2 linked regions of the Homo sapiens genome follow. The protein of the gene in region 1 purifies or fractionates together with the protein of each later gene. This does not show direct contact. Each region holds a gene or a part of one and is shown in the gene's direction. Other genes may lie near its edges.

Evidence for each region.
Region 2: the proteins of IRF1 (region 1) and SEC63 purify together in Homo sapiens (affinity purification with mass spectrometry, with the first as the bait; one large-scale study listed by BioGRID). This does not show direct contact.

What each region holds. Positions count from the first base shown.
Region 1 is NC_000005.10:132,484,298-132,487,943, reverse strand, and holds part of IRF1 (interferon regulatory factor 1), read left to right. Parts: coding exon 1-18; intron 19-813; coding exon 814-990; intron 991-1,099; coding exon 1,100-1,149; intron 1,150-1,257; coding exon 1,258-1,387; intron 1,388-1,570; coding exon 1,571-1,693; intron 1,694-2,227; coding exon 2,228-2,277; intron 2,278-3,446; coding exon 3,447-3,582; intron 3,583-3,646. UniProt on the Homo sapiens protein: Transcriptional regulator which displays a remarkable functional diversity in the regulation of cellular responses.
Region 2 is NC_000006.12:107,902,395-107,906,208, reverse strand, and holds part of SEC63 (translocation protein SEC63 homolog), read left to right. Parts: intron 1-1,487; coding exon 1,488-1,580; intron 1,581-3,210; coding exon 3,211-3,365; intron 3,366-3,814. UniProt on the Homo sapiens protein: Mediates cotranslational and post-translational transport of certain precursor polypeptides across endoplasmic reticulum (ER). Proposed to play an auxiliary role in recognition of precursors with short and apolar signal peptides.

The sequences.
Region 1 (3,646 bases):
GCTGGGCCATTCACACAGGTGTGTGCCTGGGACTCAGGCCTAGGAAGCCCAGGGTAGAGACAAGAGGAGGCACTCACGTTAACACAGAGGCTCTTCACTGGGGTCCCTGAGCTCCCTGAGACAACATGCAGAATTACTGGGAAGAGGGGCTGGTGGCAGACTTGTGTTTCTGGAGAAGAGAGTCGATCATCTCAGCAAATTCTCAAAGGGAAAAGCCAAGATCTTAGAAAGTGTGTGGCTTCAGGGGGTTTGTGGCTAGATGAAAGTTCTCCCTGGCAAAAGCATCTGTGAAAAGCAGCTGTAAGCCAGGGCACTGAAAGAGACCCAGGTCTGCCTTTTTCTTCGTGTTGACCAAGGCCCTTGGTCCAAGCCTCATGTGGTTGGTGGCCTCCTTTATCCTTGAGAGATGGAGCTCTAGGCCCATCTCAGAACAGTCAGCCCACCCATTTAGTAACTGTTCTCTGCTGCCCAGTCTGTGCCCACTCTACCCTCTGGCTGCTGATAGCCCAAGGAGGAAGACTGGGCATAGTCTGAGACACAGATAGTACACTTTGGGGATATGGGGACTCTAGTGCTTCTGGCTGGGCCCTTCACTGAGGCCCGCTAGATGTGTTTAAGCCAAGCCTGGGCATTTGAGAAGGCCCAGGGCCTAGGACCTGCAGAGTGTCACCGGGAGTACCTGCTGGTTTGACCACTGTGGCTCTCTGGTAGCATAAGAGGTCAGGGGTACCTTGCCTTCCTCCTTCAGGCCAGGGGCAGCTGAGGATCCCTACCCATGGCCCTGACGATCCTCTTTTTTCTCCTGCCCTCTAGGCCGATACAAAGCAGGGGAAAAGGAGCCAGATCCCAAGACGTGGAAGGCCAACTTTCGCTGTGCCATGAACTCCCTGCCAGATATCGAGGAGGTGAAAGACCAGAGCAGGAACAAGGGCAGCTCAGCTGTGCGAGTGTACCGGATGCTTCCACCTCTCACCAAGAACCAGAGAAAAGGTATCCAAGGACTCTGGGTCCTTGGGAAGCCCTCAGGGAGGGAGGGTAGAAGGAGGTCAGCTGGGGCTGGAGAGCCTGCACCAAGGCTGACAGCCCGTCTGCCCCACAGAAAGAAAGTCGAAGTCCAGCCGAGATGCTAAGAGCAAGGCCAAGAGGAAGGTGAGTGTGGTCCTAAGCAGCCAGGCCTTTGGTCACCTGTGGGCCAGGGTGAGCAGTGGAAGAAATGCTAAGGTGGGCCTGGGCCTAAGCTGCTTTCTCCCTCGACAGTCATGTGGGGATTCCAGCCCTGATACCTTCTCTGATGGACTCAGCAGCTCCACTCTGCCTGATGACCACAGCAGCTACACAGTTCCAGGCTACATGCAGGACTTGGAGGTGGAGCAGGCCCTGACTCCAGGTGAGCTGGTCCAGGTCTGGCAGGAGACCCCACAGGTCAGTGGGATGACTCTTTCTCTTGGAGGCATGGTGCTGGCACATGGTGGCCCATTAGTGCAGGCTGCAGGGTTGGTCGGAGGGCGCTCGATGTCTTGCAAACTAAGAAAGCACACAACCTTGACCTGTGGCTTCTGCTGTTCCCCAGCACTGTCGCCATGTGCTGTCAGCAGCACTCTCCCCGACTGGCACATCCCAGTGGAAGTTGTGCCGGACAGCACCAGTGATCTGTACAACTTCCAGGTGTCACCCATGCCCTCCACCTCTGAAGGTTGGTGCTCCTGGGGCCTGGCCTGCCTGCTTGACTGTCTGGGTCCTGTGAAGGGCTTCCTGAGAGAGAAAAGATGATCAGAACTCCACCTGGCACTGAATTGATTGAGTTGGGCATTGCCCAGTCTTAGCCACCATAGGGGGAGGCAAGCGACGGGGACACTAGGAAGGCAGTTCAGAGTGGGCTGCAGTACAGTGGGGGCTGGTGAGAGGAGGGAAGGGGGCCAGGGGCTGCATTTTGGGGTGCTGGTTCTCCTTCCTCCTCTGTAGCCCAGCATCTGAGGGTGAGGAAGGAAGTAGGGTAGGGGTGGGAAGCGGCGTGGCTTCAGGGTTTGAGAGGCTGAGTCACCAGGCCAGGGTCCTGTTCTGGAATCTCTATGGCAGATAGGTCCACCGGGAGGGTGTGTGTGTGTGTGTGTGTGTCAGAGAGACAGAGAGACAGAGAAAGGGCAGGGGGATCTGGTGGGCTGGAACTGGAACTGCAGGGTGAGTGTGGCTGACTGCCAGCCAACCTCTCTGCTTTCCCCATCCACAGCTACAACAGATGAGGATGAGGAAGGGAAATTACCTGAGGACATCATGAAGGTAAAGCCCCTTCCTACCTGGGCACTCTTGAAGTGACCGTTTCTCAGTGAGGAGAGAGAACCAGTGAAGCTTCCAAATCAGAGGATGGGTAGCTGCTGTTGTCACCTGGCTGCTTGCATTGTCCCACAAGTGCCACATTCACGTGGCTTGACTGGTGGGAAAGCCACCATGGGAAGGGAAGGCAGGTGGGAGGCCTGGCCTCTGACAGGCCGTCCTGAAGCAAGCCTTGGGGCATCAGACAGCTCTGTGAGTCAGGCACTATCAGCGATGGGTCCCTGGCCTGCATCCTCTGCCCCAACATGCCCCAGCCCTGCTAGTTCGGGAAATGCACATCAGGCTTCAATAATCAGCCTTTAGGATCCGTTAATATGATGATGGCTTTATAGAAAAAGTTAGCAAATTATCCTCCAGGTTTTTTTTTCTGCTTCAGTTTTGAAAGTGAATATAGTTTTTGCAGCCGGGGGCAGTGGCTCATGCCTGTAATCCCAGCACTTTGGAAGGCGAAGGTGGGTGGATCACCTGAGGTCAGGAGTTTGAGACCAGCCTGACTAACATGGTGAAACCCATCTCTACCAAAAATATAAAAATTAGCTGGGCCTGGTGGCGCATGCCTGTAATCCCAGCTACTCTGAAGGCTGAGGCAGGAGAATCGCTTGAACCTGAGAGGCGGAGGTTGCAGTGAGCTGAGATTGTGTCATTGCACTCCAGCCTGGGCAACAAGAGCAAAACTCCATTTCAAAAAAAAGTTTTTGCAGTAGTTGTACGCCAGCTGTTCCATTAGCCCAAAAAATTGAGACATGGATGTCGTTCCTTATCTCTAGCTTTTCTAGTCATCTTTTCTTGATTTATTATGCTAACCTTTGTTTTAAGCCACATTCCCTCTTACTATGTCCTTACACAGTTGAGAGGGAAGTCGTGGAGATGCTATACCAGAGAGTGGGTGTGAGAGGGGTGGGAAAATGAATTGAGGACCAGTGCCAACATGCATTTCTGCCTCCTCCCTCCCGGGCCCTTGTCCTGACTGCAGTGCACTTCTGCATCCTATCTGAGATTGTGAAAATGGCCAAGGGTGTGATACTGGCTGAGAGGAGCTGGCTCATTGAGGGCAGGGCCACAGGGTGAGTCTGCACTGGAAGGGAGTTGATAGCCTCTTGCTCTTCTGTCCCCAGCTCTTGGAGCAGTCGGAGTGGCAGCCAACAAACGTGGATGGGAAGGGGTACCTACTCAATGAACCTGGAGTCCAGCCCACCTCTGTCTATGGAGACTTTAGCTGTAAGGAGGAGCCAGAAATTGACAGCCCAGGGGGTAAGAAGGCCCTGGATCCTTATGGCTTCTTAGATGAGGGAGAACCACGTAGGGATGGAGAAAG
Region 2 (3,814 bases), on another chromosome or scaffold:
GGCAGAGCAAGTGTCTTCACATGGCCAGAGCAGGAGGAAGAGAGAGATGGGGGAGATGCCACACGTTTTTAAACAACCAGGTCTTGTGAGAAGTGTATCTCGAGAACAGCACCAAAGGGAGAACTCCACCCCCCTGATCCAATCACCTTCCACCAGGCCCCACCTCCAGCATTGGGGATTACCATTCAACATGAGATTTGGGTGGGGACACAGACCCAAACCATAGCATGGTGGTGCGGTGTGTTTTGTTGCTGTTCTTTTTTGGCCAAATAATTGCTCAAGGACTTTTTAAAAAAGAAATGTATATGCTACATAATTACTTCACAAATGGTTTGAAGATCTAAGTAAGTCAGACGTTTTGGCAAGTGTTAAAATTTAGTGTTTCAAGGTGAGAGAATGCTCTGTATAAGAAATGTTTAGTTAATTGCAGATCATACAAAAGTTCCTAATAATTTTTTTAAAGGACTTTGTAAGTTTTTGGAGGGAGCAAAATGGATTTCACAACAACCAACACCTCTCACCTCCCCATCTACAAGCTTCCTCCGACAGTGGTTACCAATAATGTCTGTTTTATAGTTATTTAAAGCTTCATAAGTACTTGAAGCCATGTATTCTGCTTAAAAGAAAAGTAGTTGATGGAGGCAACAGTGTTTCCAGGGATGTCATTAATTATCTCTTTTTCACCGACATTATTTCAGTTAAAGTTTTAAAAGACAGTTACTACCTCTAGGAAATAAATGTTCTTTTTGAATGATATCCTACCATCCCCCACCTCCTTTAAGGCAGTAATGCAGTTAAATGCTTCCGAAAACAAGGCCATGTGACGCTTAGTAATTGGTGATAGGACAGGATGCTTATGGTGGAATGAAGGAGCACTATTTAGGCAATATCATTGGAGTTGCTTTGAAATACTCAATTAACTAGTAATTCTGTTGCTAATGTTCTGTACAGATACATAAGCATCTCCATTTTTACTTACCTGTAAGAAGCAGGAAACAAATCATTGTTGAGTACCAAATCCATAGGTTAATGTGGTCTTAATAGTTAACTATTATATGCAGTATAAATGAAAGAGTCTTTCTCTTTCTGTAAGTTGCCCTCTTCTTCTCTTCTACGTCTCTTATCTCTCCCCCTGTATTTAGCTGACATATTTATTTTGACATATTTAGTTGATCTGCCTGCCTCAGCCTCCCAAAGTGCTGGGATTATAGGCGTGAGCCACCATGCCCAGCTGGGAGTTGGTTTATTAAGCCTAACATTATGATATTAAAAATTTGTCTTTGAAACGTCTAATCTGAGCTAGGGTTTTATGGCTGATTTTTGACATAGTGATACTGAGGAGAAACTCTTCCATTCAATCTGTAAAATTCTGAGATCATGTGAAATATTTGTGGCATAACTTTAATATTAGTTTTGGGCCACAGTGATAAAGATGCTTTAACTGTAAAATTAAAATGATCTGTTTCAGGTTTTTTATTGTTTTGCAGATCAGCAATTCATGCTAAAAAAGTGTCCTGCCCTACTTCAAGAAATGGTTAATGTAATCTGCCAACTAATAGTAATGGCCCGGAACCGTGAAGGTGAGGAGGAAATATAGTTAATTATGTTATACTTTTTCTTGCAAGCATATGCAGATTGTACTTCATATTTTAGGATTTATGGGTACTCAGACTTCTGTCGGCCAGTTCAGTGAGCTTCTTCAATTTTACTCATGTCTTTTCATATTTCTTTCCTATATTTTCTATTATTTAAAGTCTATATCACAGCTCACTGGGTTTTTTTTGTTCTTTTTTTTTTTTGAGATGGAGTCTTGCTTTGTCGCCCAGGCTGGAGTGCAGTGACAAAATCTTGGCTCTCTGCAACCTCTGCCTCCTGGGTTCAAGCGATTCTCCTGCCTCAGCCTCCTGAGCAGCTGGGATTACAGGCGCGTACCACCACACCTGGCTAATTTTTGTATTTTTGGTAGAGACAGGGTTTTACCATGTTGGCCAGGATGGTCTCCATCTCCTGACCTCGTGATCCACCTGCCTCAGCCTCCCAAAGCCCTGGTCACTGTGTTTTTGATTTTAATTCTTGTTTTTTTTTTTTTTGGAGACAGAGTCTCACTCTGTCGCCTAGGCTGGAGTGCAGTGGCGCGATCTTGGCTCACTGCAACCTCCGCCTCCCAGGGTCAAGTGATTCTCCTGCCTCAGCCTCCTGAGTAGCTGGCATTACAGGCGCATGCCACCACGCCCGGCTAATTTTTGTATTTTTAGTAGAGACGGGGTTTCATCAGGTTGGTCAGGCTGGTCTCAAACTCCTGACCTTGTGATCCACCTGCCTCAGCCTCCCAAAGTGCTGTGATTACAGGCATGATAATTTAATTATTTTATTGTTCAATTGTTTGCAAAGATTTAAAATTTCTCTTTCTTTGAATAATTTTTGAGTTAGGTCATTTTTTCTAACAGTGAATTTGAAATCTTTAACTGATATAAAAGTGATTCATATGTCATGTAATTTTTATTAATTAATTATAGACAGCATCTACCAGGGCTGGAGTCCAGTAGGGTAATCATAGCTCACTGCAGCCTCAAACTCCTGGGCTCAAGCAGTCCTTCTACCTTAGCTCTCCGAGTAGCTGGAACTACAGGTGCATACCACAGCACGGAGCTAACTTTACATTTTGTGTAGAGGTGGGATCTCACTTTGTCGCCCAGACTGGTCTGGTTTCCAACTCCTGGCTTTAAGCAATCCTCCCACTTCAGCTTCCCAAAGCCCTGGGATTACAGTCATGAGCCACATGCCTACAGGCACCTAGCCATTTTTTTTTTTTTGGTATGGAAGGAAAAGAATGAGGGAATTTCTGGTCAGTAATGGAAAGGAATGCCCTTAAAAAAGGATAGTGGTTATGGTTTGTTGTTACGGGTGATGTTGGTTCTTGTCATGGTGTCATATGTTGGTGATACTGATAATGTCTGATAATTTACTATTATTTGAGGTGAGGCAAATAATTTTTCTTTTAAATCAATGGTTGTTGCTGGAAAATGTTCATTAGATCGAGTTTGTATATTTTTAGTGTCTTCTCTGGTAACTTTTAAAGGAAAATCTTACTATGATCCTCAAATTTGAGGTGTTATGGATTTAGTGTGAATTTTGTTTTTGTGATGAATTGTATACTCCTGAACATGTAAAAAGTCCAGCCCTGTTTCTTTTTTTCCTGTTCTTTCTAAGAAAGGGAGTTTCGTGCTCCAACTTTGGCATCCCTAGAAAACTGCATGAAGCTTTCTCAGATGGCCGTTCAGGGACTTCAGCAATTTAAGTCTCCCCTTCTGCAGCTCCCTCATATTGAAGAGGACAATCTTAGACGGGTTTCTAATCATAAGAAGGTAATTCTTTGCTACTTTAAAGTCAGTTTTCAGCAGTTTGTCCTGTCACTTAAAGGTAACATGAATAAAAGTTTTCTGGAAATGGTTACTATGCATTTTTTAGATTTAGAATGTCTTAAATACTCTAAAACTTTCTCTCAGGTGGTTCTGTTAACATTTTCTTGACTAGGTAGCTGTGTTTTATAGTATTTTACTACTGTAAGTAGTTTTATTATTTTGGGGGTTGTTGCATTTAAAAAGTCAACAGTTAGTTCCTTATATTATGTTACCAAAAATAAATGTACTGTCTACTTTACAGTCATTTTATTCTTGGCTTAAGGTTGGGCAATTGTTTACTGGTTAAGCATGAACAACAAAAACATTTAATAAATCAAATAAAGACAGTTCTTATTTAGAATATATAATCTATAGTATAAACATGATAATGAATCTTAAGATATAACAAAAAT